Linked DNA regions of Homo sapiens: all the other regions are linked to region 1. The links come from fine-mapping of genetic effects on gene expression. A gene starts in region 1. Each other region holds a variant in brackets. All regions are shown on one strand. Distances are between the middles of the regions. Region 1 holds the start of GNG7 (G protein subunit gamma 7). Region 2 overlaps GNG7 (G protein subunit gamma 7). Region 3 overlaps GNG7 (G protein subunit gamma 7). Region 4 overlaps GNG7 (G protein subunit gamma 7). Region 5 overlaps GNG7 (G protein subunit gamma 7). Region 6 overlaps GNG7 (G protein subunit gamma 7).

Region 1 (5,071 bases):
TTCTAGCTTTTTTTTTTTTTTGAGACAGAACTTCGCTCTTGTTGCCCAGGCTGGAGTGCAATGGCACGACCTCGGCTCACCACAACCTCTGCCTCCTGGGTTCAAGCCATTCTCCTGCCTCAGCCTCCCGAGTAGCTGGGATTACAGGCATGTGCCACCACACCCGGCTAATTTTGTATTTTCAGTAGAGACGGGGTTTCTCCATGTTGGTCAGGCTGGTCTCAAACTCCTGACCTCAGGTGATCCACCCGCCTTGGCCTCCCAAAGTGCTGGGATTACAGGCGTGAGCCACTGTGTCCGGGTGGGCGCCTGTAATCCCAGCACTTTGGGAGGCCGAGATGGGCAGATCACGAGGTCCGGAGATCGAGCCCATTCTGGCTAACACGGTGAAACCCCGTCTGTACTAAAAAATAAGCTTGGCGTGGTGGGACGTTCCTGTAGTCCCAGCTACTCAGGAGGCTGAGGCAGGAGAATCGCTTGAACCCGGGAGGCGGAGGTTGTGGTGAGCTGACGTCACGTCATTGCATGCCAGCCTGGGCAACAAGAGCGAAATTCCATCTCACACACACAAAAAAGAAAATAATAATAATAATAATAATTAAATAGAGATGAAGCCTCGCTATGTTGCCCAAGCTGGTCTCGAACTCCTGCCCTCAAGGGATTCTCCTACCTTGGCTTCCCAAAGTGTTTGGATTAGAGGCGTAAGCCACCATTATTCTAACTATTTTGAAATGTACAATACATTGTTGCTAACTACAGTCACCCTATTCTGCTATCAAACATTAGAATTTATTCTAATACTATATTTGATAGCAGAATACATCCTATTCTGCTATCAAACATTAGAATGTATTCCTTCTGTCTAACTGAATGTTTGTACTCATAACTCACCTCTTTTCATTTCCCCCCCACTCAACCTACACAACTTTCCAGCCTCTGGTATTGATCATTCTACTCTCTACCTCCATGAGATCAACTCTCTGGTTCCCACGTATCAGTGACAACATGCCCTATTTGTCTTCCTGTGTCTGGCTTATTTCACTTTTTCACTTAATATAATGACCTCCAGTCCCATCCATTTTGCTGCAAATGACAGGGTTTTATTCTTTGTTATGGCCGAATCATATTGCATTGTGTATTTAACACTTTTTTTTTTTTTTTTTGAGACAGAGTCTCACTCTATCGCCCAGGCTGGAGTGCAGTGGTGTGATCAAAGCTCACTGCAGCCTCAACCTCCTAAGCTCAAGCGATCCTCCTGCTTTCGCCTCCGAAGTAGCTGGGACTACTGGTGTGCGCCGCCAGGCCTGGCTAATATTTTAATTTTTTTGTAGAGTTGCGGTCTCAGTATGTTGCCAGGCTGGTCTTGAACTCCTGGGCTCAAGCGATCCTCCCGCTTCAGCCTCCCAAAGTGCTGGGAATACAGTCGTGAGCCACCGTGCCCTTCCCAAGCTCTATCTAGACAGTCATTCCTCTTGGGGGATGCCAGCTGGGGAGAGCCTGGAGGAGGGCAAGCAGGGAGATGGAGGTTTCTCTGTGCCCTGCAGGGCAGGCCACTGGAGTCCAGAGGATGAGCAGGGAGGTTCTTGCAGGGATGACAGGAACCCTGGGGAAGTTTATCTTGGATTTTGGCCAGCAGCTCCAATCCCAGGGCTCAGGTGGGGCGGCAAGGACACACAGTGTCAGCGCCTGATGAAATCCCTGAGGTCACAGAATATGGTGGCTCCATCTTCCTTCCAGGGCTGTGTACTGCTTTTGGAGACATACAAAGTGTTTTCCAATATTCCCAAGGGAGCTTGTGGAAAATGAAGATTCCAGGCCTGTAATCCAAGCATTTTGGGAGGCAGAGGCAGGAGAATCACTTGAGCCCAGGAGTTCAAGACCAGTTTGGGCAACATAGCAAGACCCCATCTCTAACAAAAAAAAATTAGCCAGGGCCAGGCACGGTGGCTCACGCCTGTAATCCCAGCACTATGGGAGGCCAAGAAAGGTGGATCACCTGAGGTCAGGAGTTGGAGACCAGCCTGGCCAAAACGGTGAAACCCTGTCTCTACTAATAATACAAAAATTAGCTGGATGTGGTGGTGCGTGCCTGTGGCCCCAGCTACCCGGAAGGCTGAGGTGGAAGGACTGCTTGAGCCTGGGACTTCAAAGCTGCAGTGAGCTATGACTGCACCACTGCAGTCCAGCCACGGCAATTGAGTGATACCCTGTCTCAAAAACAAAACGAAAACTAAACAAAACACAGATTTCAGGGTCCAGTTCCCTATAGGATTCTGGTTCATTCCATCTGTGTTGGGGCTCAGGAATTTGTGGATCCAGGGCCATGAGTTAGGAAACTGAGAAATCTTGGAAATGATGAGACAGGCTTGGGCAAATGACCTTAGGTTTCACCTTTCTGAGACCCAGTTTCCACCTCTGTAAAATGTGGATAGTAATCTCGCCTTCTGGCCTTATGCGGAGGGTCCCACGAGAGGGAGCCTATAAAGTCTTCAAGAAAGCGGTGCAGCAGTTATGATCACTGACATTCTTCCCCAGCAAATGAGCCCCCGGAGCTGGCATGCAGGATTCGAACCAGCTCACCTAGCGCGGGATTCGAACTCGCGAAACTACTCGCGCCTTCCTGACGTCACGAAGTCACCCTGGAAAGCCGCTCTTCGCCCCGCCCCCGGCCCCGCCCGCGCCCGGAGCCCCGCCCCACTCTCCTGGGCGCAGCCTACCCCGCTGCCTGCCCCGCGCCCCGCCCCCGCTCCGGCCTCCCGCAGCCGGGGCTCGCGATTGGCCTTGCCGGGACGCCAGGGCCCGCCCCCCGAGTGTCGGCCCCGCCCCCGCAGAGGGGAGCGAGCGCTCGCGGGCCGGGGCGGAGGGTTCGGCTGCGCGGCGGGGCTGAGGCGGCCGCGGGGCCCGAGCGCAGGTAAGGGCGCCCGCGAACCGGGCCAGGGGAAGTGAGGGCGCGGCCGGCGTCCCGGAGAGGGGACTGGGACAGCTCGGATTCGGCTGCGGACCGAGTTGGGGGTCGGAGTCGGCTGAGGAGGGGGGCTGGGTCTGGGGACCCGGGCTGCAACTGGAGGCTGGGGTTGGAATTGGGGACGGGGCTGCGCTTAGGGGGTCGAAGTTAGCTGGGGAGGGGCTGGGGTTGGGGATTGGGACTGCACTTGGGGCTCAGGGCTAGCTGGGGAGGGGGCGGGAGTTGCAGGTCGAGGTTAGCTGGGGACGGGGCAGGGGGTGCAGATCGAGGTTAGCTGGGGAAGGATTGGGTCTGGGCATTGGGACTCCACTTAGAAATCAGGGCCAGCTGGGGAGGAGGCTGGAGTTGCAGGTCCAGGTTAGCTGGGGAGGGGGCTGGAGGTGGGATTGGAGGTCTGAGTTAGCTGAGGAGGGGGCTGGGGGTGAGACTGGAGGTCTGAGTTATCTGGGGAGGGGACTGGAGTTGCAGGTCGAGGTTAGCTGGGGAGGGAGCTTGGAGCGGGATTGGAGGTCTGAGTTGGCTGGGGAGGGGTCTGGAATTGCAGGTCCAGGTTAGCTAGGAAGGGGCTGGTGGTGGAATTGGAGGTCTTGAGTTTGCTGGGGAGGGGGCTAGAGTCGCAGGTCGAGGTTAGCTGCCGAGGGGGCTTGGAGTGGGATTGGAGGTCCAAGCTAGCTGGGGAGGGGGCTGGAATTGTAGGTCGAGGTTAGCTGGGGAGGGGGCTGGAAGTGGAATTGGAAATCTGAGTTAGCTGGGGAGGACGCTGGGGATGGTGTTGGGGGTTGAGGTTAATTGGAGCGGGGAACAGGGGTTGAGTCAAGGGTGCAGCTTCTTTGAAGAGGGAGCTGGGAGTGGGGTTGAGGTTTGCAGGGAGCTGGAGAGGGGGCTGGGGATGGAGTTTGAAGTGGGGTTCATTGGAGAGGGGGCTGCAGAGGGAATTAGATGTTGAGGTTGTCTGGGGAGAGGACTGAGGAATGGGGTTGGTGAAGATGGGGGGGTGTGATTGACGGCCCAGGGGTTAGGGTTAGCTGAAAAGGGGCAGAAGGACAAAGCTGGGGTGAGCCAGGGAGTGGCTGGAGCATACAGGTGGGGGTCAGGCTTGTTCCAGAAAGGGTCTGGGGGCTATCAGGGGAAATGGGGAGCTTGTGAGTGTGTGGGGTGGAAGGGGGTTCAGGGAGAAGGAAGTTGGGGTGAGTTAGTGAGAAGGGAGGTGGGGGTAAGGTCCCAGGCTGGAGACACCTGGGGGCAGGTGTTTTGCTAGACATTGACTAATCAGGAGGAAAACGGGGTGTGGGGAGGTGTCTCAGGTAGGATCCAGTTAAAAGGAATTTGGAGAGGACTCACCCCTCTACTTTTGGGGGAGATGTTAATTGTTTGCTCTAGAACTGGGCACGGGGCAGAACCCCCTGGGGAACAGTGAGTTGAAGGAGACGGGAGTTCGGAATACTTTTTGAGGTTTATTTCTAGGATATAGGGTGCCAAGGAGAACGCTTCAGGAAGGAGAAAGGCTCCTGTCGGTGACTGAATTTTTCAGGAACTAAAGTGGGAGTTTTTGGGACGGTGCTATTGAGCGACGTGGGTGGCACTTTATTTTTCCTGGGGAGCGGGGGTTGCTAGGGGTTGGGAGGTGGGCGGTGGAAGACAGGCTTGATGAACAGAGGCAGCGGATCCCCAGCTAAGCGTCTTCACACGGTTGCTAGGTGTCAGCGAGGCAAATGCCAAGTTCACAAACTTGTTCCCGTCGTGGGATGCTGCGATCTTGCCTTGATGGAGTGTCGGGGGCCTCTGGGAGGTGCGCCTGTGTGTGTTCCGACCCAGCCTCTCGCTGCGGATTTGGCTGTATCATCTTTTGGAGGTGTTGTTTACTCCCCTGCAAAGCGGGAATAATAAAAACAGTAGCATGTGCCTCTCAGGGTCGAATTACGGGATGTATGCATGGACTATTTCCTAGCATATAGTGAGGGTACCTGAAGCATGGAGAATAATGGACTCAATCCAGTTTTTTTCTTTGGTGGGTTTGGAGATGGAGGAGTGGGATGACTGGGTTGTCACAGAGGAGAGGAAAGGAAGTGACTGGAACTTGACTCTAGTCCTGCAACCTTAGGAGCA
Region 2 (5,071 bases), 31 kb after region 1:
CCCAGCACTGTGGGAGGCCAAGGCGGGTGGATCACCTGAGGTCAGGAGTTCGAGACCAGCCTGGCCAACATGGTAAAAACTCGTCTCTACTAAAAATGCAAAAATTAGCCGGGCATGGTTGTGGGCGCCTGTAATCCCAGCTACTTGGGAGGTTGAGGCAGGAGGATCGCTTGAGCCCAGGAGGTGGAGGTTGCAGCGAGCTGAGATTGCACCACTGCACTCCAGCCTAGGCAACGGAACAAGACTCTGTCTCAAAAAAAAACAAAACAAAAACAAAAAACAAAAACACCAGTCACCTTTGGAGACCTTGCCCTTTTCCCAGCAGTGTGACGATTCTGATTCCCTTCAAGAGTGGATTGTACTGCTTTTGTATATTTCAAACATACAATTGTGTGTATTTCCATTATATTTCAGATTCTTTTTTCTTGTTTGTTTTGTTTTTGAGATGGAGTCTCACTCTGTTGCTCAGGCTAGAGTGCAGTGGGGTGATCTCGGCTCACCGCAACCTCTGGCTCCCAGGTTCAGGCAATTCTTTTGCCTCAGCCTCTGGAGTAGCTGGGATTATAGGCAAGGTGCCACTACACCTGGCTAGTTTTTATATTTTTAGTGGAGATGGGGTTTCACCACGTTGGCCAGGCTGGTCTCAAACTCCTGACCTTGGGTGATCCGCCCACCTTGGCCTCCCAAAGTGCTGGGATTACAGGCGTGAGCCACGGTCCCTGGCCTCAGATTTCTTTTAGGGTAGTTTTGAATTTTGGAAACAGCCTATATTAGTTAGCTAATTCTGTGTAACAAATTATCACAAATGTATCCTAAGAAAACTCTGAAATATATTGGAAATATACACAATTGTATGTTTAAAATATACAAAAGCAGTACAAGGCCCTCTCTCTAAAAAAAGAAAGAAAGAAATTTTCTAAAAAGACCAGTATCCATACATTATCACGAACTCAACTCCACACTTTATTTACATTTTATTTTTCTTTCTTTCTTTCTTTCTTTTTTTTTTTTTTTAGATGGAGTCTCGCTCTTTCACCCAGGCTGGAGTGCCAGTGGTGTGATCTTGGCTCACTGCAACCTCCACCTCCTGGGTTCAAATGATCCTCCTGCCTCAGCCTCCCAAGTAGCTGGGATTTCAGGTGCCTGCCACCCTGCACGGCTAATTTTTGTATTTTTAATAGAGGCAGGGGTTCACCATGTTGGCCAGGCTGGTCTCGAATTCCTGACCTCAGGTGAGCCGCCCGCCTCGGCCTCCCAAAGTGCTGGGATTACAGGCGTGAGCCACGGCGCCCGGTCTTTATTTCCATTTTCTTGTTTTTTCCAGGAACCCACATGCCATTGACTCCCGACATCTCCTTACACTCTGCTGGGACACTTCTCAGACTCATTGGTTTTGATGACCTGCTGGGTTTTTTTTTGTTTTGTTTTGTTTTGTTTTGTTTTTTTTTTGAGATGGAATCTCGCTCTGTCACCCAGGCTGGAGTGCAGTGGTGCTATCTCAGCTCGCTGCAAGCTCCGCCTCCCGGGTTCACGGCCATTCTCCTGGCTCACCCTCCTGAGTAGCTGGGACTACAGGCGCCCGCTGCCACGCCCAGCTAATTTTTTGTATTGTTTAGTAGAGACGGGGTTTCACCGTGTTAGCCAGGATGGTCTCGATCTCCTGACCTTGTGATCTGCCCGCCTCGGCCTCCCAAAGTGCTGGGATTACAGGCATGAACCACCGCACCCGGCCAACCTAGTGGTTTTGAGGAGGACTCGTCAGGAGTTTTGTAAAATGTCCCCCAACGTGAGTTTCCATGATGTTTGCTCTTGAATAGTCTGGGGTTCAGGGCTCTGGGGAGAACACATCAGGGGCACGTGACGTCCACACTGGTGGTGTTGACATTGGTCACCTGGCCAAGGTAGAACCCAGTGGCTTTAAACTTTGAATTATTGCCAGCATTTAAAAATCAGGGGTCACAGACCAGGCGCGGTGGCTCACACCTGTAATCCCAGCACTTTGGGAGGTCGAGGCGGGCAAATCACTTGAGGCCAGGAGTTTGAGACCAAGCTGGCCAACATGGTGAAACCCTATCTCTACTAAAAATACAAAAATTAGCCGGTGTGGTGACACACACTTGTAATCCCAGCTACTCAGGAGGCTGAGGCAGGAGAATTGCTTCAACATGGGAGGCAGGGTTTGCAGCGAGCTGAGATCGCACCACTGCACTCCAGCCTGGATGACAGAGTGAGACTCTGTCTCAAAAGAAAAAAAAAAAAATCGGGCGTCACACCTGTAATTCCAACACTTTGGGAGGCTGAAGCAGGAGGATTGCTTGAGGCTGGGAGTTCTAGACCACCCTGGGCAACACAGTGAGACCCCATCTCTACAAAATATTTAAAAATAGGCCAGGTGCAGTGGCTCACGCCTGCAATCCCAGTGCTTTGGGAGGCTGAGGCAGGAGGATGACTTGAGGTTAGCCTGGCCCACATGGCAAAACCCTGTCTCTACTGAAAATACAATTAGCTGGGTATGGTG[G/T]CAGGTGCCTGTGGTCCCAGCTACTCGGGAGGCTGAGGCAGGAGAATTGCTTGAACCTGGCAGGCAGCAGTTGCAGTGAGCTGAGACTGCGCCACTGGGTGAGAGAGCGAGACTCCATCTTTTTTTTTTTTTTTTTTTGAGACGGAGTCTCACTCTGTCACCCAGGCTGGAGGGCAGTGACGCAATCTCGGCTCACTGCAAGCTCCACCTCCCGGGTTCATGCCATTCTCCTGCCTCAGCCTCCCGAGTAGCTGGGACTACAGGTGCCCACTGCCACGCCCGGCTAATTTTTTGTATTTTTAGTAGAGACGAGGTTTCACTGTGTTAGCCAGGATGGTCTCGATCTGCTGACCTCGTGATCCACCCGCCTCGGCCTCCCAGAGACTCCATCTTAAAAAAAAATAAAATAAAATAAAATGAAACTAAAAATCAGGAGATTTTACAATAGAACATCTCCCAGCTTCTCAGAGTAGTTGGAGGAGCTGATGACATTGGGCTTCACACCCACTGGGGCAGGAGCGGTGCCTGATGCCCTTTGAATGGGCCAGGTGTTGTCTCTCTGGGGCTCCGCATGCTACCCGTCACCTTCCCGCCTCAGGGCTGACCTCAAATTCATGACCCCTGGACATGGCCTCGGAGCTCAGCCAGGACGAACGTTCCCCTGCCTGGCTCCTCCCCAGCTCTCGGGTCTCGGGGAGGCGGCTGAAGCTGGGGGAAGCGTGTGAGGCAGAAGGCAGGCCGGACAACGTCACCTTGAGCCTCATTCACCTCGTTCGTCAGCACTTGGAGGGTTGGTCCTTTTGGCTGGTGCTGGCCAGGTCGAGGCTCAGAGCCACCGGTGTCCAGGGGGATCCGGGGTGGTCCTCGGCCTTCCTGCAACTGCCAGGGTGGTCATCAGAAAGGCTCCTGAGCTGCTGGGAGTTGGTGGAAGGTGGGTTGTCTGAGATCAGCTGGAGAGTTTTAAACATAGTTGGGTACTGATTTGTGGTCGTCACAGTTAAGAGAGGGGCAGCTCCTGGCATGGACTGGGTGGAGGCCAAGGATGCTGCTCAGCACCCTGCCGTGCCCAGGGTGACCACAGAGAACGATCCATCCTTGAATTCCAAGGGGGAGAGACCCTGCTTTAATTATTTGGAAAAATATCGAGTCTGCTCCCTGCTCACACCAGACACCAGAATAAACTCCCAAAATCAGGGGGACCCCCAGCTCCTGGGATTCACCCCCTCTCTCCCTCCCCACTCAGGGTGGGGATATCAATATGTGCAGCCTCCTGGGACCTCAGCAGGGCAGAGGATCATGGGACGCCGTCTCTTTGTGGGAGGGGTGGTCCTTGGAATCTGTAACCCAGGGGGTGTCAATGGTGGATGATTCTGTCCCCCAGGGGACACCTGGTAAAGTCTGGGACATTGTGGTTGTCACAACTTGTGGGGGGCGGGGCGAGGGCTCCTGGCATGGAGTGGGTGCAGGCCAGGGATGCTGCTCAGTACCCTGCAGTGCCCAGCACAGCCCCGCCCGAGAGAACACTCCAGCCCCAGTGCCTCAGCAGTGCCTAGGGGAGGAGACCCTGGACCAAAGTGACCCTCAGAGAATAGGGTGCTCTGTGAATCTCCACACCCGTCACACAGCCATGCCCGAGGCAGCTCAGGGTCTGGGAAAACAAGCCACATGGGACGCAGTGGCCGTCCTAGCTCAGCAAGTCTGACCGTCTGGAGGCTGCAGGGCTGACTTTGTGGAGTCAGGGTGACCTGTGTGCCTGCAGACACCGGCGCTGGGAGCGCAGGCCTCAGCTCTGTCCCCCGTGACAGCGGGGTCGAGGTGACAGCACGGCTCCCGCGGGGGCCTCAGAGGCAGGCCTGCTGCCAGTCTCTGCTCCCCCGACAGTGGGGTGGGTCTATCCCCACTGGTGCTCCTTCCTCTGGAGCCAGGCTGAGGGGAGGGTGGGTCTCCGTGGCCAGAACCAGGCTGCACCAGACAGAGCTTATTTCACCCCCTGAGGAGGCTGACCCTGCTGTTTTTGTTCCTCCAACAAAATATTAACGGAGCACTCAGAGAGAGAGAGAGACAGAGAGTTTCAAAAGAAAACAGTCAGAGGCCTTGAAGTAATGATGTAGGGCTCTGGGGCTCTGTCTTGTGAGGTGTCCACACACCTTTTCTTTTTCTTTCTTTTTTTTTTTTTTTTGAGACAGAGTCTCGCTCTGTCACCCAGTCTGGAGTGCATTGGCGCGATCTCAGCTCACTGCAACCTCTACCTCCCGAGTTCAAGTGATTCTCATGCCTCAGCCTCCCGAGTAGCTGGGATTATAGGTACCCGCCACCACGCCTGGCTAATTTTTGTATTTTTAGTAGAGACGGGGTTTCACCGTGTTGGCCAGGCTGGTCTTAAACTCCTGGCCTCAAGTGATCCTCCCGCCTCAGCCTCCCAAAGTGCTGGGATAACAGGCATGAGCCGCTGCACCCAGCCATCAACAGACCTCTTCTGTAAAGAGCCAGAGAGTAAATATTTTCGACGCTCTGAGCCAGGCGCTCTCCGTTGCAGGCACTCAACTCTGCTGT
Region 3 (5,071 bases), 39 kb after region 1:
AGGCAGATCACCTGAGGTCAGGAGTTCGAGACCAGCCTGACCAACATGGTGAAACCCTGTCTCTACTAAAAATACAAAAATTAGCTGGGCGTGGTGGCGGGCGCCTCTAATACTGGCTATATGGGGGACTGAGGCAGGAGAATCACTTGAACCCGGGAGGCAGAGGCAGTGAGCCAAGTTCGCACCACTGCACTCTAGCCTGGATGACAGAGCAAGACTCCATCTCAAAAAATAAGTAAAATAAATTGAAAAAGAATAATAAAAGGAGGTAATCCAGGTTCTAAATAATAAAGCCAGTATGTGCCATGACCCATGGCTCAGACACCACTTTAAACATTTTATAGATACTCATTTATGTAATCTCCAAAACCAGTCTCACAGGGTGGATGCTGCTTCGATGTGCATTCTACAGAGTGGGAAACTGAGGCACAGCGACAGTGGCAAGGGACTGAAGGTCACCCAGCCAGACAGCGAGTCGTGAAGTCAGAATGGAGTAGCTCTTGTCCAGCACTCCACCTTGGCCATACCAGAGCGTACGTCCCCACCCAATCCTTCCTCGGGACTCAGTGGAGCTATTTTCACATTGAGGGGAAATAGAAATCCGTTCGTTCTCATTTTCTTTCTTTTTTTTGTCCCGCATGGCCCTCTTCCCAAATCCTTGTTGCCCGTCTCACCAGACATTCCAGTTCCAAGAGGTGGGGTGTGGCGAGGACTGTCCAGCACGGCAGGGTGATCCTGCCCCCCCCCCCCCAGGGGACACTGGGCCATGTCTGGGGACATTTGTGGCTGTCACCATTGAGAAGTGCTCCGGGCATGCAGTGGCTGGAGGTCACGGATGCCGCTCAGCGTGCTGCAGTGCTCAGGACGGCTCCATCCCAGAGAATGGTACAGCCCCAGTGTCCACCGTGCCTGGGAGGAGAGACTCAGCATTCATTATTTGGAGAAGAAATGGAGTCTGCTTCCTGCTCACCAGGACACACTCCTGATGGGGCAGACGGTGTAAACCAGGGGACCCCAGCTCGTGGGATTCACCTCCTCTCTCCCTCCCCCCAACTAAAGGTGTGGATTTCAATGTGTGCAGCCTCCTGGGACCTCAGCAGGACAGAAGATCAGGGGACAGAGTATCTTGGGGGTCCGTGGAATTTCCTAATTCAGGGGGTGTCAACTGAGGGTGATTCTGCCCCAGGGGACACTGGGTGTTGTCTGAGGACATTTGTCGTTGTCACAACTTGAGGATGGTCGTGGCGTGGAGTGGGTGGAGGCCAGGGACACTGCTCAGCACCCTGCAGTGTCCGGGACAGCTGCACCCTAGAGAATGACCCAGCTCTGAATGTCCACGGTTTCCAGGGGAGAGACCTTGCATTAACTGGCAAAAAAATGAGTTTGCTCCCTGCTCACAGTAGACACCAGAATAGATTCCCGATGGGGCAGACGGTGTCAGCCGGGGCCATCCTCCCAGAGTGACCTAGAGGACTGGGTGAGGAGGGTCTCTAGAGCACTGAGGGTGCAGGACACAGAGCCAACCGTCTGATTGTTCCTTCCCCCTCCTTGACCTCGGCTCACAGAGACCTTGAACCCTCAGGGTCAAGCAGGCCTGCCCCTTTGTTCTGTGTGCCCCAGGGTGCAGTGGAGCCTGTTCCAGGTCACGCCCGGCCTGGCCGTCATCAGTCTCGTGGCTCTGAAGCAGCCACGTCACTCCCCCAGTCCCGGCACCTCCCCTGCGCCTGCACCTGGGTGAGAGCCCGTCCAGGCCTCTCTGCCCCCTTCCTTTGCAATCAGCACTTTGCTGGTGACATATTTAGATGGTTGCTGTGGTGATGAGTGAAGGCTGAGGTTGACAACTTCAGCGATGGCACAAAGGACAGGGCTGTGTTTCTATATCCAGCCTCCAACGAGACAAGACGCCCCTGCCACGTGCTGGCAGAATGTCAGCGTGGGAAGGGAAGGGGGCTCTGACAGCCCGTCCTGCCCACTCAGTTCCCAGAGGAGGAAGTGCAGCCGGGCCTGGGGGGCGGTGGAGGATAGGCCTGTCATCAAATGTCAGGTCCCTGGCTGTCCTGCCCTTGAGGGACATGCCTTAGAGCATTGGGTCTCAACTGGGGGCAAGCCTGCCCCCTGGGGGACACTGGTAATGTCTGGGGACATTTGTGGGTACCGTGACTTGGGGGTGCTCCTGGCCTGGAGTAGGTGGAGACCAGGGATGCTACTCAGCACTGTGCAGTGCCCAGAACGGCCCCACCCCAGAGAATAATCAAGCCCCA[G/A]TTTAATAGTGTCAAGATCAAGCCACGTTGCTTTAGTAGGAAATAGATAAAAGCCAGTGGATTTGTTCAGTTTTAAAAACTGGTGCTGGCATGCATATCTTGATAATTTGCAAAATGCCAAAATGAATCATTTTCTTGGCCTGGTCATTCTTCTGATTTGCCCTCAGTGAATGTACCTTATCCATCTGGGCTTTTGCATCTCTCCCAATTATCAGGTTGATAGATATTGGAAAAACAAGAAAATGAAAAATCCAATTGCTGGCTTTTAGGAAAAGGTAATGTTTGACTACACACCTGTCTTTATTTTGTGCTGCTATAATGGAATGCCATAGACTGGATAATTTATAAATAATAGAGATTTGTTTCTTAACGGTTCTAGGGACTGGGAAGTCCAATGTCGAGGTGCTGGCATCTGGTGAGGGCCTTCTTGCTGCGTCAGAGGTGGAAGGGCAAAAGAGCACATATATGAAAGATTGGGGAACTGGGGAAGAAAGAGGAGGGGGGGGAGAGAGAGAGAAAGGGTGAGAGGGAGAGAGAAAGAGAGATGGCATTAATGAGGGTAGGGCCTTCATAACCTAATCACCTCTTAAAGTTCTCACCTCTCAACATGGTGGCATTGGGAATTAAAGTTTCTACAATATGCTTTTTGGGAGACACATTCAAACTATAGCAACATCTGCTTGGAGGAGTCATGTGGATCAGCCCTTCCTTCCCTTTGCAGATGTACCAGTTATCTATCACTGTGTAACAAATTACCCCAACACTTAGCTTAAACAGCAAGCATTTACTATCCTGCAGTTTCTGTGGGTCAGTGGGATATTATATTACTTGCATTATATTTATTATATTATTTGGTCTTTGTCCTGATTTTTTTCTGGTGCAGAACTCCTAAAATCCTTGGAATCTGCAAAGTCATGTCTTTTTGTATGATGATAAGTCGACTGATGGCTGACAGCTTCTAGTTATTTTCAGGAATGGTCTGGCCACCAGAAAGATCAAGGCAGGATGAGAGGGCTGGAACCTTTAGCTGTACCCTCCAGCCTCTGGGGAGGGGAGAAGGGCTGAAGGTTGAGGTGATGACCAGTGGCCAGTGACGCGATCAGTCATGCCTATGAAGTAAAGCCTCCATAAAACTTCAAAAGGACGGGGTTTGGAGAACTTTGAGATAGCTGAGCACATGGAGGTTCCTGAAGGGTAGCATGCCAAGGAAGCTTTGCCCTTCTTCCCTATACCTCATCCTATGCATCTTTTCGTCTGTATTCTTTGTAATATGCTTTATATTAAACCAGTAAATGTGTTTCCCTGAATTCCGAGAGCTGCTGTAGTAAATTAAACCCAACCCTAACTTCAAGCTGGTCAGTTGGAAGTTCTGGAGGCCCAAACTTGCTACTGGTATCTGAAGAGGTTAGGGGCAGTCTTGTGGGGGGATTTAGCCCTCAACCTGTGGGGTCCAAGGCTGTCTCCAGGTAGATAGCACCTGAATTGAATTGAACTGAATCGAATTAGGGGACAGCTAGCTGGTGTGTGGGGAAACTCCTCTCACATTTGGTCACAGAAATATCTTGGGTTGATTTTTTTTTTTTTTTTTTTTTGAGATGGAGTCTCGCTCTGTCGCCCAGACTGGAGTGCAATGGTGCAATCTCTGCTCACTGCAGCCTCCGCCCCCCAGGTTCAAGTGATTCTCCTGCCTCAGCCTCCTGAGTAGCTGAGATTACAGGTGCCCACAACCACGCCTGGCTAATTTTTGTATTTTTGGTAGAGACAGGGTTTCACCGTGTTGGTCACGCTGGTCTCAAACTCCTGATCTTAAGTGATCCACCTGCCTTGGCCTCTGAAAGTGCTGGGATTACAGGCGTGAGCCACTGCACCTGGCCATGTTGATTGCTGTTGATGTGAGAGCAAGAGGAAAAGCAATTTGAGTTTGAGTTTTTTCCACCCTCACTCAGGAGTTAGGAAGCAGCTCCACTGGGTGATTCTGGCAGTGAATGTGCTGGGGCTGTATCATCTGAAGGCTCGATTGGAGCTGGAGGAGCTGCTTTCAAGAGGGCGCCCTCATGTGGCTGTTGGTGGAGGCCTCAGCTTCCAACTGGCCTTGACAGGAGGGCAAAATGCCCAAATGAGTCGTTCCTTCCTTCTTTCCTTTTTTCCTTCCTTCCTTCCTTTTTTTTTTTTTTTTTTTTTAATGGAGTCTCACTTTGTCAGCCAGGCTAGAGTGCAGTGGCACAATCTTGGCTCACTGCAACCTCTGCCTCTTGGATTCATGCAATTCTTCTGCCTCAGCCTCCCGAGTAGCTGAGATTACAGGCATAATTACAGTAATTAGCCAATTACTGGCTAATTTTTATATTTTTTTTTAGTAGAGATAGGGTTTCACTGTGTTGGCCAGGCTGGTCTCAAATTCCTGATCTCAAATGACCTGCCCCAACCTTGGCCTCCCAGAGTGCTGGGATTATAGGCATGAGCCACTGTGCCCAGCCTGGAGGGCCCATTTCTTTCTTTCTTTCTTTCTTTCTTTCTTTCTTTCTTTCTTTCTTTCTTTCTTTCTTTCTCTTTCTTTCTTTCTTTCTTTCTTTCTTTCTTTTCTTTCTTTCTTTCTTTCTTTCTTTTCTTTCTTTCTTTCCTTTTCTTTTTTTTTTTTTTGAGACAGAGTTTTGCTCTTGTTGCCCAGGCTGGAGTGCAGTGGCACGATCTTGGCTCACTGCAACCTCCGCCTCCCAGGTTCAAGTAATTCTCCTGTCTCAGCCTCTCTAGTAGCTGGGATTACAGGCATGCACCACCACGCCCGGCTAATTTTGTATTTTTAGTAGAGA
Region 4 (5,071 bases), 24 kb after region 1:
ACTTGGGAGGGTTACACAGGAGGATCAAAGAAACAAAAACTGTCGGTTTCACTTCAAAACATGCTCCGCGTCAGTCCTCAGGGAAATGCAAATCAGAGCCATGGTGAGATACCACTTCACGCCCAGTAAGATGGCTAGAATTAAAAAACCAGAACAACAAACAATCACAAGGGCTCACGGGGAGGTAGGACATGGGGACCCTCATGCGAGCTCGGGAGACGAAGGTTGCAGTGAGCTGTGATCACACCACCGCACTCCAGCCTGAGCAACAGAGCAAGACCCTGTCTCAAAAAAGAAACGAATGAAGTCGGGAGTTCAAGACCAGCCTGACCAACATGGAGAAACCCCGCCTCTACTAAAATACAAAATTAGCCAGGCGTGGTGATGCATGCCTGTAATCCTAGCTACTTAGGAGGCTGAGGCAGGAGAATCTCTTGAACCCAGGAGGCGGAGGTTGCAGTGGGCTGAGATCTCACCATTGCATTCCAGCCTGGGCAACAAGAGGGAAACTCCATCTCAAAAAAAAAAAAAAAAAAAAATTGTAAATTTTGTGTTAAGTGTATTTTACTAAAAAACCCACTGTTAGTCTATGTGGTCACTTTTCAGAGCTTTTAATTTTTAATTTTAAAATGTTTTAATTTTTTAAAAAATAGAGACAGGTGGCTGGGCAAGGTGGCTCATGCCTGTAATCCCAGCACTTTGGGAGACCGAGGCGGGTGGATCACCTGAGGTCAGGAGTTTGAGACCAGCCTGGCCAAGATGGTGAAACCACATCTCTACTAAAAATACTAAAATTGGCCAGGCATGGTGGCGGGTGCCTGTTATCCCAGTTACTCGGGGAGGCTAAGGCAGAGAGAATCACTTGAACCTGGGAGGTGGAGGTTGTGGTGAGCCGAGATCGCACAACTGCACTCCAGCCTGGGCAACAGAGCGAGACTCTGTCTCAAAAAAAAAAAAAAAAAAAAAGAGACAAGGTCTTACTATGATGCCCAGGCTGCTCGAACTCCTGGGCTTAAGCGATCCTCCCTCCTCGGTCTCCCAAGATGCTGGGGTTACAGGCGTGAGCTGCCGTGCCTGGCTGACAGTCTTAGACTGTAAGAAGACGGTCCTGTTTTTCTCCCTGTGGGTTTCTCATCTTTCTCCACTGTGGGTCAAGCCTAATAGAGCTGTGGACACTGACTGGTTCTGTTTTAAGGGATTCTGGCATTGGATTTTGAGTTTCTTCACATCTGGGACTACTGAGCAGGTCATGTCTTTGATTTAGGTCTTGCCAAGCCCAGGTAATTTAGGAAGGTGCTACCTGGTGCCTGGAGTTAATACAATGAGTAAGGTGAAGATGCAGATGGGAATGCAAGGGGTTGAAAATTCTGTCCTGCTTTGAGGAAGTGGGACCTGGGGGAATAGGATATGTAAAAAGTGAAAGGTGGCGAATCATGGAGGGTTCTGGAATCTTCTGGAACCTTCTAGAAACTCCCAGAGCCTTCTAGAGTTTTCTGGAATGTAGGCATGGTGAGGCATTGGATTTAGAATGCCTACTTAGCCACCATGTGACTTTCTTTCTGTGTGAATTTTGAAGAAAACATGGAACCTTTCTGTTTCCTTGTGTGTCAGACAGGATAGGAATCACTCCCTAGGGTCATTGAAAAGATTGGGATGGACTACGAGGCTGTGACCTGGATGGGTGGTGGTCCTGGTTATCACTGTTATTGCTGGAATCACTGCTAATATTATTCAATATATTATGTATAAATATTAGTATTGGCTGGGTGTGGTGGCTCACACCTGTAATTCCAGCACTTTGGGAGGCTTAGGTGGGAGGATTGCTTGAGCCCTGGAGTTCGAGACCAGCCTGAGCAACATAGTGAGACTCTATCTCTACAAAATTTATTAAAAATTAGCCAGATATGGTGGTGCACACCTGTGGTCCCAGCTGCTTGGGAGGCTGAGGCAGGAGGATTGCTTGGAAGCCTAGGAAGTTGAGGCTGCAGTGAGCTATGATTGCACCACTGCATTCCAGCCTGGGCAACAGCAAGATCCCGTCTCAAAAAATTAGCATTGTACTATATGTTACTTATGTTGTTATTTTTCCTCACGGACACCATGGGCGTGGACCAAATTCAGAAAACGATGAAGTCTGTTCTTGGGGAGATGGGATAGGAGCTGTAGCTTGGCTGGGCTGGCTTAAGAATCAGGCTTGTCTGGAAATCGGAGGGACCGTCATGAGAAGCTGTTGGTTTCCGATCGTCGAAGGCTGCATGACGGAGGATGGGTTGGCTG[G/C]TGCAAAGGTCAGGGAAGGGATTCTGTTGGCATGGGGTGTAGACCTGGCGTTGAAGGCCACTCCTAGCTCTGAGAGCTGGGACCCCTTGAGAGAAGTAGTTACCAGGCTGGGGCTTGGCAGAATCAGGGTTGGAGGTGATGATCTTGGAGGCGCTGCCTGCTGCCCAGGACCCTCCGAGACTGGACACCTTATCTGATTCTTCTCCCTGTGTTGTGGATGGGGAAACTGAAACCGTATGCATTTATTACCCCATCCCAGGATTTGGTTCCTCCACCCATAATAGGTGACTGAGTTCAAAGAGCCAAGTGTGACCTGTGTACAGTGGGTGTGACCCACCTGCCCACTGTGTGGCAACCATGTCATCCCTGGAAGTTTGCATTCCGTGGCTTTTCCTCTGTTACTTTTTTGACTCCGTGCCCAAGCCCAGCAGCTTCTGAATCCAAAGCCTTGCTATGCCACAATACCTACTATATTTCAGAAAATTCTGGAAGTTTCCAGAAGCTTCTGGAAGATTCCAGAACATTCTACAAGTCACCTTTCACTTCTTGTATATCTCGCTCCCCCCAGGTTTTACTTCCTCAATGTAGCATGTGCCCTGAGATGGAAGTGACCACAGTCACACCCACTCTCTTGTTTCTTGCTGTGACAGTGTTGGCGTCGGCCACCGCCACCTCCTCTTCCACTCAGGGCCACAGTGGAAGGTCTGGATGCCTGGTGTTCTGTTTTCCTAAGGCTGCTGAACCCTAACTAACATCCACACAGAGGCCACTGGTGGTCAGCACAGGTGGCAGGGTTAGAAAGGTTGGGACTGGCTTTGTCCTTTGAGTCAGAGGGACAGTCACACTCATGTTTGTGTGACCATATGCATGTGGCTATGGTCAGTCCTATAGATTATGGCAGCGGTTATCACTCTCTGTCACTGTGGACCTTGGGGCCAGATCGTTCTCTGAGGTGGGGCCATCCTGGGCACTGTAGGGTGCTGAGCAGCGTCCCTGGCCTCCACCCACTCTATGCCAGGGACACCCCGAGTTGTGACAACCAAAGATGTCCCCAGACATTGCCCAGTGCCCCATGGGGGGCAGAATCACCCCCAGGTGAGACCCCCGGGGGTTAGGGGATTCCACAGATCCCCAAGAAACTCTGTGTCTCATGATCCTCTGTCCTCCTGAGGTTCCAGGAGGCTGCACACATTGTAATCCACACCCTGAGTGGGGAGGGAGAGAGGAGGAGAATCGCAGGAGCTGGGGCCCCCCTTGGTTTCTGCCATCCACCCCATCGGGAATTTTTTCTAGTGTCTGGTGTCAACAGGGAGCAGATACAATATTTTTCCAAATAATTAAGGCAGAGTCTCTCCCCCTTGGCATTCAGGGCTGGGTCGTTCTCTGGGGTGGGGTTGTCCTGGCCACTGCAAGGTTCTGATCAGCATCCCTGGCCTCCACCCACTCCACGCCAGGAGCATCCCTGAGTCATAACAGTCACAAATGCCCCCAGACACCACCTAGCATCCCCTGGGGACCAGAAGGACCCCTGGTTGAGAACCACGGTTGTATAGAAAGGAATTGAAGCAAAAAAAAAAAAATGGAATTCTCTGCTCCCCTGTGGCATCCTGTTGATGGATTAGATTCAGCCTCCATGCTCCAACACCGAGCTCAGCGTCTCCTGGAAGGCCCTGTCTCCAGAGGACGTTCCCAGATCCTGCTCCCTGGAAGAATTCTTGCGAGCATATATGCAAGTGTAATTAAGCGGCCGTTTTTCCTCTGTGGTGACACAGATTTGGGTCTGCAGTAAAGATATGGAGTCCCTTTAGAGCTGAGAGCCGGATCACGGCCAGGAGAATGCCTTGCTTTGAGATTCTCTGGGAATCGGGAGTCCTGCCTGGGTGGAAATCAGCCCTGGACAGGGAGGGAATGTGCAGATCGGAGCAAGTGGCTTGTTTCTTCCTGGCAACCCCAGAAGCTGTCTGAACAGCTTCTCTCTGCCACACATCTCTTTGAGTCTTGCACCCGCCCGGCTGAAAATTACACCCAACTCCTCCAGCCGGGTCTAGGAAGTGGTGCAAGCTCCTGAACCTCCATCTGCAGAATAACTAACTAGCTGTTCCTGAAAACCACCAAAGAGGCTGGGCGCGATGCCTCACACCTGTAATCCCAGGACTATGGGAGGCCGAGGCGGGAGGATCACTTGAATCTGGGAGTTTGACACCAGCTTGGGCAACATGGTGAAACCCCATCTCTACAGAAAGCGAAAACAAAAATTAGGCAAGCATGATGGTGCGCGCCTGTGGTCCCAGTTCCTTGGGAGGCTGAGGTGGGAGGATCGCTTGAGCCAGGCGGTGGAGGTTGCAGTGAGCTGAGACTGTGCCACTGCACTCTAGCCTGGGCGGCAGAGATATATCGCTGAGGGTTTGACGGACACTTCTAGATGGAAATCAATGTCTATCTGGTGCCTTGGGGGCTGTGCATGTTCACGAGGAGGGTGTCTGAACATGCCAGGATGTGGGTGCCTAGGGGAGGGTCTCTGTGGGGTGAAGTTTGGATATTTGAGGGCGCCCATGGAAAATGACTTCAACCTGCATGGCTCAAAACCACAGAAATGGATTTTCTGGCAGTTCTAGAAGCCAGAAGTCTGAGACGAAGGTGTGGGCAGGGCCGTTCCCGGCCCAGAAGCTCCCGGGGAGGATCCTTCCTGCCTCTTCCAGCATCTGGCAAGTGGCCGGCGGTTCTTGGCGCCCCTGGGCTGGTGACATCGCTCCAGTCTCTGCCTCCATCCTCACACGGCCCCCTTCCCTGTGTG
Region 5 (5,071 bases), 58 kb after region 1:
CACAGGCGGGCACCACTACACCCTCCTAATTTTTAAATTTTTTTTGTCAAGATGGGGTCATTTTGTAGAGATGGGGCGACTCGCTGGGAGGACCCTGGACTCCGCATGAGGCCTCCTTGTGACTGTGGTTTGTCCCAGCAAGAGGACATGGAGCACAGAGCAGAGTTTGGGAAGGGAAAGGCTCGTGGGGTGGGTCGGGGAGGCCAGGCCCGGCTTCTAGGCCCAGCTTCCAGGCCCTCTCCCCATGTGTCACGCGGGACACGCCACATCCCCAGCAGCGAGCTGGGACAACAGCCCAAAGCACTGTCACCAGCGAGGCTCCCAGAGACCCAGCACCCACGTTCCTATGGGGGCTGGTTCTGCTGCCCCTGCTGCCTGACCCATGCCAGGATTCCAGGCTCCAGAGGGAGGCAAGGATTTCATATAAACCACGGTGTTTGCAGGAACAGCTTTGGCCCTGGAGCTTGTCCTGTCAGTGATGGTGGCAGGGTCCCCCCGAGTCCCCCGAGGTGGGGAGTTCCTGGTCGCAGCCTCAGGCATGTGGTGCCAGCCTGGTTCTGCTCAGAGACTGCCCGTACCAGCTGAGCTGGGGCTGAGGGACTTCCCAGGATGCAGGACTTTCAGGCTAACTCTGGAAAAGTCCTGGGCAGACCTGGATACGTTGGGTGCCTTCTGGGCACCGTGGGACTAACTCAGCCCCTTCTTCTTCCTCCCAGGGAGATCGTGAGGCTCCAAAGATGTACAGAGATGTTTTTGATAAACTGTGAAGAGCCGTAGAAACATCAATCCTTGCACTCAGTTCAGTTTTCAAACACGTGGAAAATGTATTAGGAATAACGTCATAAATCTCTAATAATAAATATTTTCAGTGAATTGTCTTCTGCTTTTTTCCTTTTCTATTATTTTTTTTTTTGAAGCAGAGTCTTGCCCTGTTGCCCAGGCTGGAGGACAGTGGCTCGATCTCAGCTCACTGCACCCTCTGCCTCCCGGGTTCAAGGGATTCTCCTGCCTCAGCCTCCTAAGTAGCTGGGACTACAGGCACCCACCACCACGTTGGCTAATTTTTATATTTTTAGTAGAGACGGGATTTTGCCATGTTGGCCAGGCTGGTCTCGAACTTCTGACCTCATGATCCACCTGCCTTGGCCTCCCAAAGTGCTGGGATTACAGGCCTAAGCCACCGCGCCTGGTTGCCAAAATGATTTCTGTCCTTGTCCAATCACAAGCGCGAGGCCGTTCTCCAATGCTGACCCCATCAACACATGCATGGTGCCTCCAGCCAAGCCACGCCAAACTAACTCTATGTGTTTTTTCCAGGGAGTGGAGCTTGGTTTCGGGATCTCGGTGCTGCAGACGGCGAGACCTCCTGCACAGGTCGGTGCTGTAATGCATTTCTTTGTTATGATTTGAGGTTCAGTTGGCTGTTTTGCACCCTGGATGTAAGACGTGGGGTTGCCGTCAAGGCGGGCGTCTTGGCCTTGACCTGGGTCTGTCGGCTGTTTGTATCCACCAAGTATGGGTAATGGGGAGCAGGTGTGGGTAACAGCTGCTAGCTCCTGGCAGAGTTTCCCGCCCACGAGGCAGGGAACGTGGCACTCACTGGTCCTGCTGGTGCCGGAGCCCCTGGATGGGGTCAGGGTGGGAAGCCCACAGCGGTGCTGCATGCCTTTCCGGTGTCTTCGTGCCATGGTAGGGAGTTTTAAGGAGCCTTCACCCGTATCTCCTGTGCACCTGGAGAGTGACCCGTCGCTGGCCCTTTAGCTCTCCTCTGTTGATTTACTCCTCGTTTTTCTCCCTAGAGAATCATGAGTGGCTTTTAAAATGTAGGAAGAGGAAACCATTTAAAAATAAGTAGAAAGGAAGGCAGAAATGTCCAGAAAAGGCAAAGCCATAGGGACAGAAAGGGACTCGTGGTGATTGGAGGCTGGGGACATGAATGTGCACCAGAGACTTGCCAGGGACGTGGAAATGGACCCGATGGTCGGGTCGGGGTGACCGCAACCTGGTGAACTTACTTAAAAATCTTAAAACAAAATTTTTTTTTAAGAGTTAGGGTTTTGGCCAGGCATGGTGGCTCATGCCTGTAATCCCAGCACTTTGGGAGGCCGAGATGGGTGGATCACCTGAGGTCAGGAGTTCCAGACCAGCCTGACCAACATGGTGAAACCCCATCTCTACTAAAAATAGGAAAATCAGCCAGGCGTGGTGGCAGGTGCCTAGAGTCCAAGCTACTCGGGAGGCTGAGGTGCGAGAATCACTTGAGCCTGGGAGATGGTGGTTGCAGTGAGCCAAGATCATGCCACTGCGCTCCAGCCTGGGTGACAGAGCGAAACTCCTTCTAAAAAAAAAAAAAA[G/AG]AGAGAGAGAGAGAGAAAAGAAAGAAAGAAAGAAAAACAGAAAAGAGTTAGGGTTTGCTTTGTTGCCCAGGCTGGTCTTGAACTCCGTGGCTCAAGTGATCTTCCTGCTTTGACTTCCCAAAGTGCCAGGATTACAGGTGCGTACCATTGCACCCGGCCCTGAAGTATCTTTGAGCAGTACACTTCACTTGAATTTTATGGCATGTAATGTGTACCTTAAAAATGCATATTTTAGCTAAGCCCAGTATAAATCATTTTGGTCTCATCCTTAGTAGTCAATGGTCATGAGAGGTAATTCAGAAACAGATGTACTCAAAAGTCAAGAATATGTTCAAATTTAGCAATAAGGCAAAGACTCCAAATGTCCATCAATGGGTGAATGGATCAGCAGAACATCCTCCATCCACACCATGGAGTGTTACTCAGCCATGAAAAGGAATGAAGCTTTGACACAGGCCACAGTGTGGATGTACCTTGAGGACGTCACGCTCAGTAAGAGATGCCAGACACAAAAGGCCACACAGCATGTGATCCCCTTTCTACAAAAGGTTCAGGACGGGCCGATCCACAGAGGCAGGGAGGGGATGCGTGGGTGCCGAGACTGGGAGGGGCATGGGAAGTGATGGTTGATGGGTTTCTTCTTCTTGGCATAATTAGAATGTTCTGGAATTAGTGGTGATGGTTGCAGGACTCTGAATGTACTAAATGCCATTGAATTGTGCGTTTTCTTTTTATTTTATGATTTTTTTCTTCTTTTTGGTGCCGCAGATAATACTCAGAAAGAATTATGCATTTTAAATGGGTGCACTGTATGTCATATGAATTACATCTCAATAACATGATGCATGTATAGATAGAGCATTATATATATATATATATATATATATATATATATATATATATATATATATATATAAAGTGTAGGCCGGGTGCAGTGGCTCACACCTGTAATCCCAGCACTTTGGGAGGCCAAGGCAGGTGGATCACCTGAGGTCAGGAGTTTGAGACTAGCCTGGCCAACATGGCGAAACCCCGTTTCTACTAAAAATACAAAAATTAGCCAGGTGTGGTGTTAGGCACCTGTAATCCCAGCTACTTGGGGGGCTGAGGTGGGAGGATTGCTTGAACGCGGGAGACGGAGGTTGCAGTGAGCTGAGATTGCGCCACTGCACTCCAGCCTGGGCGACAGAGCGAGACTCCATCTCAGAAATAATAAAATAAAATAAAGTGTAGATGCAAAAAGTGTAGATATAAAATATATGTATAATATTTATTTATGAAGCCAAACATAAAAATGTAAAGGACTTCATATTGTACAATTCCACTTACAGGAAAATTCTAGAAAAGGTGACAGATCAGAGGTCGCCTGGAGGCTGGGGGGTTGGGATCGGGGCAGCTCTGGGAGTCGATGACAGCGTCCCATTGAGATTATGCTGATGGTTGCATAGCTGTAGAAATGAATGGCAACCCTTAGAACCATGTGCGCTTGAAGATTAGCGTGCCCAGTGTGCATCGCAGGGTGTGTAACTGCACCCCAGTGAAGCTGTGACACCAACAGAAAAGCTCAGCCCGAAAAAGGAGGCGCAGGGCTGGAAGGTGTGCAGAGCCCGGAGAGGTCTCGGACTTTGCATTTCCGGTGCCGACGGAGCCGGGCCGGAAGGTGTGCAGAGTCCGGAGAGGTCTCGGACTTTGCATTTCCAGTGGACATGGTGCAGGGCCGGAAGGTGTGCAGAGCCCGGAGAGGCTCAGACTTTGCATTTCCGGTGCCGACGGAGCCGGGCCGGAAGGTGTGCAGAGTCCGGAGAGGTCTCGGACTTTGCATTTCCAGTGGACATGGTGCAGGGCCGGAAGGTGTGCAGAGCCCGGAGAGGCTCAGACTTTGCATTTCCGGTGCCGACGGAGCCGGGCCGGAAGGTGTGCAGAGTCCGGGGAGGTCTCGGACTTTGCATTTCCGGTGCACATGGTGCAGGGCGGGAAGGTGTGCAGAGCCCGGAGAGGCTCAGACTTTGCATTTCCAGTGCGGACAGTGCAAGGCCGGAAGGTGTGCAGAGCCCGGAGAGGTCTCCGACTTTGCATTTCTGGTGCACATGGTGCAGGGTGGGAAGGTGTGCAGAGCCCGGAGAGGGCTCAGACTTAGCATTTCCGGTGCCAATGGCGCAAGGCGGAAAGGTGTGCAGAGCCCGGAGAGGGCTCAGACTTTGCATTTCTGGTGCACATGGTGCAGGGCGGGAAGGTGTGTAGAGCCCGGAGAGGGCGCAGACTTTGCATTTCGGGTGCCGACGGCAGGGCCAGAAGGTGTGCAGAGCCCGGAGAGGTCTCCTGCATTTCCGGTGCACATGGTGCAGGGCGGGAAGGTGTGCAGAGCCCGGAGAGGGCTCAGACTATGCATTCCCGGTGCTTCCTGGGGCTGCCACAGGTTTGGTGTTGGGCTTCTTCAAACATTCAGTTCTGGCCGGGCGCCATGGCTCACGCCTGTAATCCCAGCACTTTGAGAGGCCAAGGCAGGAGGATGGCTTGAGCCCAGGAGTTTGAGATCAGCCTGGTCAACAGAGCGATATCCTAAACTCTACAGAAAATTAGACAGGTATGGTGGCACGCACCTGTAGTCCCTGCTAGTGGGGGGCTGAAGTGGGGAGGATCGTTTGAGCCTGAGAGTTTGAGACCAGCCCAGGCAACATGGTGAAACCCCATCTCTACAAAAAATACAGAAATTAGCC
Region 6 (5,071 bases), 180 kb after region 1:
ATATGTAGATTTTTATTTCTTTTCATTTTTTGCCCTCGGGATAACTGCCGGAGCAAGGGGTTAGAGGGCGGCTGCTCCCTGGGGGTCCCTGTGGTCCCACCTCCCTCCCTGCCGGTGCTGCCAGCTCCTGTCCTGCGGTTTTGTTCAGCCCTTCTGTGCACTGGAGCCTCGTGTCTGATCAGCTCAGGTCTGCTCTGTTTCGGGGCTGGTCACCCTTCCCTGAGCGACCACAGATTTCCACTATGTCCTGGAGTGGGGGGGTACCCTCATCCTTCTTGACTTTCAGGCGCGAGTGGGATTTTTCTGCACGAGGCGGGCTTAGACTCGGGTGTGGCTATGAGCCTTTTGCTAGGAGGCCAGCGCGGGGCCGGGCGGCGTCCCTCTTCAGTTTTATTTTTGGAGAGCCTGGCCTGGAGCCTTGCCTGCCTGCAGGAGCCTGTGCACCGAGGCAGAGCCCGACCGTCAGGAGGGAGCCGTGGGGACTGTGTGCACCTTTGACCACCTGGCCCTGCCCCCGGAGCTGCCTGCTCCCGCCCCTCCCACAGCTTCCCCGGGCCACGGGCCCCGAGGCAAGCTCATTCAGGTCGGGGTGCCCGGCACCCGTGCGCCTCTGCAGGGAGGCAGTTGGGAGGGGCGTTCCTGGCTGACTCAGTGCGTGGCCAGTTCTGCTGCTGTTGGCTTAGTCCTCTGCTGGGGGCATGGCTGCTCCTGAGTCAGTGCCGGCTGGTGACACCACCGAGACGGGGACTTAGGGAGGCGACTGCATGGGTGATGCAATCTGTGTCTGAGTCTCGGCATCTCAGCCCAAGCATCCACATGCACTCCCGTGCGCACACACACGCACACGCATGTACACATGCAGACACATGTACACACCCACGCACGCACATATCCACGCACCTACAGTGACGTACACACACGCCAACACGCATGCACACACCCATAGTGACATGCATGCCCACACACGTGTGCGCACACGCACATGCAGTGCCGTGTCCACACACGTGCACATACACACGTGCACACTGGCATGCATGTCCACACACATGCACGTATGCAAATGCACCTATGCACACACTCATATGCAGACGCACACACGTAGATGTGTACATGCACTCATATAGACACATGCACATGTACACACATGCAAGGATGCACACTCATATGCATGCTGACGTGCACACCCATGCATATGCAGGTACACATACACATGCAGATATGTGTGCACACACGCATATATGCACACTCATGAATGCCAGTATACACATACACACATACATGCACACGCAAGGTACACATACATGCACATGTGCACACACATACACATGTGCACACTGACATGCACACCACGTGTACACACGTGTACAGTCACATGTGCATCATTGACATACATGCAAATAAACATAGACACACACACACAGCGCAGTCCTCTCTGGCCTTCCTGGCAGGCCTGGGTTATTACCCAGCCCAAAGGCAGCATCTCGCAGGGAATTTCGCCCAAAACAGAAAAGCCAGCACGGCTCAGGACCTGATGCTCACATGGAAATTGCGGGCGGTGGCTGCCCAGGGCAGCAGGGGCCCAGGGTCTGGGTGGACACTCCTGACTGTGGATGCTAAATAGGACCCCCTGGCCTTCCAAGGAAAACAGGAGGTGCGGCCAGCCCGTTTGTTCTCTGCGTGCACGTATTTTTAGCACTGAGTAATTTAGGTATTTTTAAGCCCAACCAAGGGCGGTTTTCCCTGAGTTGGATGTTTTGTGGCTGCTTTGAAGCTCTCTGGAATCAGAGCCCTCTGAGCGGCCACACGTGGGCTCTGCCTCCAGAGCAGACAGATTGGGCCTTCTCTGCCCCCAAAAAGTGGGGGTGGGACGTCTGCTGGAAACCAAGGAGGCTGGGCGGTGTCAAAGGGATTTTTTGTTTAATTGCCCCTTTTATTGAGATCGCCGTGGAGTCACAGCCAGTGCTAACAAAGAATGTAGAGGAATTCTGTGTGTCATTCCCCGGCCGTCCCTGGTGGTAACATTTGGTAAAGCTATGGGCAGGATCGCAGCCAGACAGTCACACACCCACCAGCCTCACTCAGGTTCCACAGTATTCAGTATTGTGCCCGCTGGTGTGTGAGTGTG[T/C]GAGGCTCTCTGTGAGTTTATCACTCATGTAGGCTTGTGGATTCATCACCGTAGTTGAGGCACTAACAGGGATCATTCGTGTTGCCCTTTTATTATTTATTCAGAGATGGGGTCTCACTAAATTGCCCAGTCTGGCCTCAACCTCCCAGGCTCAAGTGATCCTCCCACCTCAGCCTCCCAAGTAGCTGGGACCACAGGAGTGCGCTACCCATGCCCAGCTAATTTTCTAATTTTTTGTAGAGAGGGGGTCTTGCTATGTTGCCTAGGCTGGCCTCAAACTCCTGGACTCAAGTGATCCTCGCATCTCAGCCTCCCAAAGTGCTGGTATTACAGGCAAGAGCCACCATGCCTGGCTGTGTTGCCCTTTTATACAGAGACCTATCTCCCTCCCAGCCCCTGCCCCTCCCTGATCCCTGGCAGCCGCTAATCTGTTCTCCATTTCTAAAATTTCGTCCTTGGGCCGGGCATGGTGGCTCATGCCTGTAATCCCAGCACTTTGGGAGGTCGAGACAGGCAGATCACTTGAGGCCAGGAGTTTGAGACCAGCCTGGCCAACATGGTAAAACCATGTCTCTACCAAAAATACAAAGATTAGCCAGGCATGGTGGCACATGCACCTGTAATCCCAGCTACTCAGGAGGCAGAAGTGAGAGTATCGCTGGAGCTGGAGAAGCGGAGCTTGCAGTGAGCTGAGATCATGCCACTGCACTCCAGCCTGGGCAACAGAGCGAGACTCTGTCTAAAAAAAGTCCTCTTAAACACATTACACAAACAGAAGCATGCTACACATCCCAGGCCCTGGAGATTCCCCTGCGGTGTGGTATGCATGGATGGTCCTTTCCTTCTTTTTTTTTTTTTTTTTTTTTTTTTTTTGAGACAGAGTCTCACTCTGTCCCCCAGGCTGGAGTGCAGTGGCGTGATCTCTGCTCACTGCAAGCTCCGCCTTCCGGGTTCACCCCATTCTCCTGCCTCAGCCTCCCGAGTAGCTGGGACTACAGGCACCCGCCACCACGCCCGGGAGACGGGGTTTCACCGTGTTAGCCAGGATGGTCTTGATCTCCTGACCTTGTGACCCGCCCGCCTCGGCCTCCCAAAGTGCTGGGATTACAGGCGTGAGCCACCGCGCCCGGCCAGTCCTTTCCTTCTTATCACTAAGTAGGCATTTTTTGAGAACTCTGGAATCTGCCTTGACTTCTCTGCGGCTGCCTGGCTCTGCAAAACAGACAGCGATGCCATGAGTTATGACAGAGACAGGGTGCGGCTTAATTAACTGCTCACAGACGCCCGGCTGGGACTGCGGCTGCCCAGGACTCTTGAACCTGGCCCCTGCCCCTGCCACCCCCATCAGCACCAACCCCCTCACTGGGTCCTACGAAGCAGGTTTCTCTAGGCTGGACACTACTGACACGTGGGGCTGGATCGTTCCCTGGAGCGGGGCCGTCCTGGGCACTGCAGGGTGCTGAGCAGCATCCGTGGCCTCCACCCACTCCCTGCCAGGAGCACCCCCAAGTCATGACAGCCACAAATGTCCCAGACATCACCCAGTGCTCCATGGAGGGCAGAGTCATCCCCAGATGAGATCTGGGGATTCCACGGACTCCCAAGAGACTCTGCGTCCTGTGATCGTCTGCCCTGTTGAGGTCCTGGGTTTTTCCAGGAGAATTCAAGAAGCAACAGCATGGGCTCCTGACTGGTTCAATATGAAGGACACGGAGGAGAGGCCGGGCTCACACCTGTCATCCCAGCACTTTGAGAGGCCGAGGAGGGTGGATCACCTGAGGTCAGGAGTTCAAGACCAGCCTGGCCAACATGGTGAAACGCTGTCTGTACTAAAAATACAAAAATTAGCCGGGTGTGGTGGCACGTGCCTGTAATCCCAGCTACTCGGGAGGCTGAGGCAGGAGAATCGCTTGAACCCGGGAGGCAGAGGTTGCAGTGAGCCGAGATCACACCACTGCACTCCAGCCTGGGCAACAGAGCAAGACTCTGTCTCAAAAAAAAAAAAAAAAAAACACGGAGGGGGACAGTCACCAGGGGTTCTGCTGTGATCCCTGCCCTGACCCAGGGTCTCCCCTGGGTACTATGGATATCGCGTTCGGATCCTTCCCTGGCGTGGGGCCGTCCGGGGCACTGCAGGGAGCTGAGCAATGTCCCTGGCCTCCACCCAACCCACTCCATGCCAGGAGCACCCCCCACAGCCACAGATGTCCCCAGATATCACCCAGTGTCCCCTGGAGGGCAAGAACCCCTGCCATGGACTGAGGCAGGCCACCCGGGAGCCTGCGTGGGTCCTCCCTTCTCCAGAGGGCCTGGCCTATTGCCTTTGCCCTTTCTTTATTTTTTCTTTATTTTTTTTTTTGAGACGGAGTCTTGCTCTGTCGTCCAGGCTGGAGTGCAGGGGCACCATCTCGGCTCACTGCAAGCTCCACCTCCCGGGTTCACGTCATTCTCCTGCCTCAGCCTCCAGAGTAGCTGGGACTATAGGCACCCACCACCATGCCTGGCTAATTTTTGTATTTTTTTTTTTTTTTTTAGTAACGATGAGGTTTCACCGTGTTAGCCAGGATGGTCTCGATCTCCTGACCTCATGATCCACCTGCCTCAGCCTCCCAAAGTGCTGGGATTACAGGCGTGAGCCACCACGCCCAGCCTGCCTTCGCCCTTTCATTCTCTCGTTCTGCAAACTCCCACAGAGGATTGTGACGGCTGACCGCGTGCCAGGCTCTATGCTGAGAGTTAAACGAGTGCCAGCTCTTTGTACACGGAGGCCCCTGGTCCCCACCCAGAGGCAAAGTGGCCGTGCCTAGAGTCGGGAAGGTTGAGCCAAGGCCGGGCGCCCCTGCTGCCACCCAGAGGCCTGACCTGAACTTTGACCCACACCCCTCTGCTTCCCCCACAGCTCTCTGAACAACGGGGCCCAGAGCTGATGGCAGACAATGTCAGCCA

What was found. PIP is the estimated chance that this variant, and not a neighbour inherited with it, causes the effect.
Region 2: its variant is the best candidate, but not a certain one, in a credible set for the expression of GNG7 in esophagus mucosa (GTEx, PIP 0.51).
Region 3: its variant is the best candidate, but not a certain one, in a credible set for the expression of GNG7 in whole blood (INTERVAL, PIP 0.58).
Region 4: its variant is the best candidate, but not a certain one, in a credible set for the expression of GNG7 in esophagus muscle (GTEx, PIP 0.50).
Region 5: its variant is the best candidate, but not a certain one, in a credible set for the expression of GNG7 in whole blood (INTERVAL, PIP 0.54).
Region 6: its variant is the best candidate, but not a certain one, in a credible set for the expression of GNG7 in anterior cingulate cortex (GTEx, PIP 0.55).

The regions. Positions count from the first base shown.
Region 1 is chr19:2,700,486-2,705,556 of GRCh38, reverse strand. It overlaps GNG7 (G protein subunit gamma 7), which reads left to right and starts at 2,863. Exons shown (of 5, transcript NM_052847.3): 1 at 2,863-2,911. RefSeq lists a silencer at 2,578-2,967.
Region 2 is chr19:2,669,636-2,674,706 of GRCh38, reverse strand. All of the region lies in intron 1 of GNG7 (G protein subunit gamma 7), which reads left to right. Among named protein-coding and RNA genes, the nearest start is that of GNG7, 31 kb to the left of the region's middle. RefSeq lists a silencer at 4,185-4,385. The variant G/T (reference allele first, on the strand shown) is at 2,519.
Region 3 is chr19:2,661,042-2,666,112 of GRCh38, reverse strand. The region is part of intron 1 of GNG7 (G protein subunit gamma 7); the gene reads left to right. Among named protein-coding and RNA genes, the nearest start is that of MIR7850, 33 kb to the right of the region's middle. The variant G/A (reference allele first, on the strand shown) is at 2,262.
Region 4 is chr19:2,676,040-2,681,110 of GRCh38, reverse strand. The region is part of intron 1 of GNG7 (G protein subunit gamma 7); the gene reads left to right. Among named protein-coding and RNA genes, the nearest start is that of GNG7, 24 kb to the left of the region's middle. RefSeq lists a silencer at 2,881-3,029. The variant G/C (reference allele first, on the strand shown) is at 2,278.
Region 5 is chr19:2,642,527-2,647,597 of GRCh38, reverse strand. GNG7 (G protein subunit gamma 7) reads left to right here. Exons shown (of 5, transcript NM_052847.3): 2 at 1,318-1,374. Among named protein-coding and RNA genes, the nearest start is that of MIR7850, 14 kb to the right of the region's middle. RefSeq lists an enhancer at 3,662-4,161. The variant G/AG (reference allele first, on the strand shown) is at 2,355.
Region 6 is chr19:2,520,679-2,525,749 of GRCh38, reverse strand. GNG7 (G protein subunit gamma 7) reads left to right here. Exons shown (of 5, transcript NM_052847.3): 4 at 5,025-5,071. The coding sequence starts at 5,062. Among named protein-coding and RNA genes, the nearest start is that of GADD45B, 47 kb to the right of the region's middle. The variant T/C (reference allele first, on the strand shown) is at 2,126.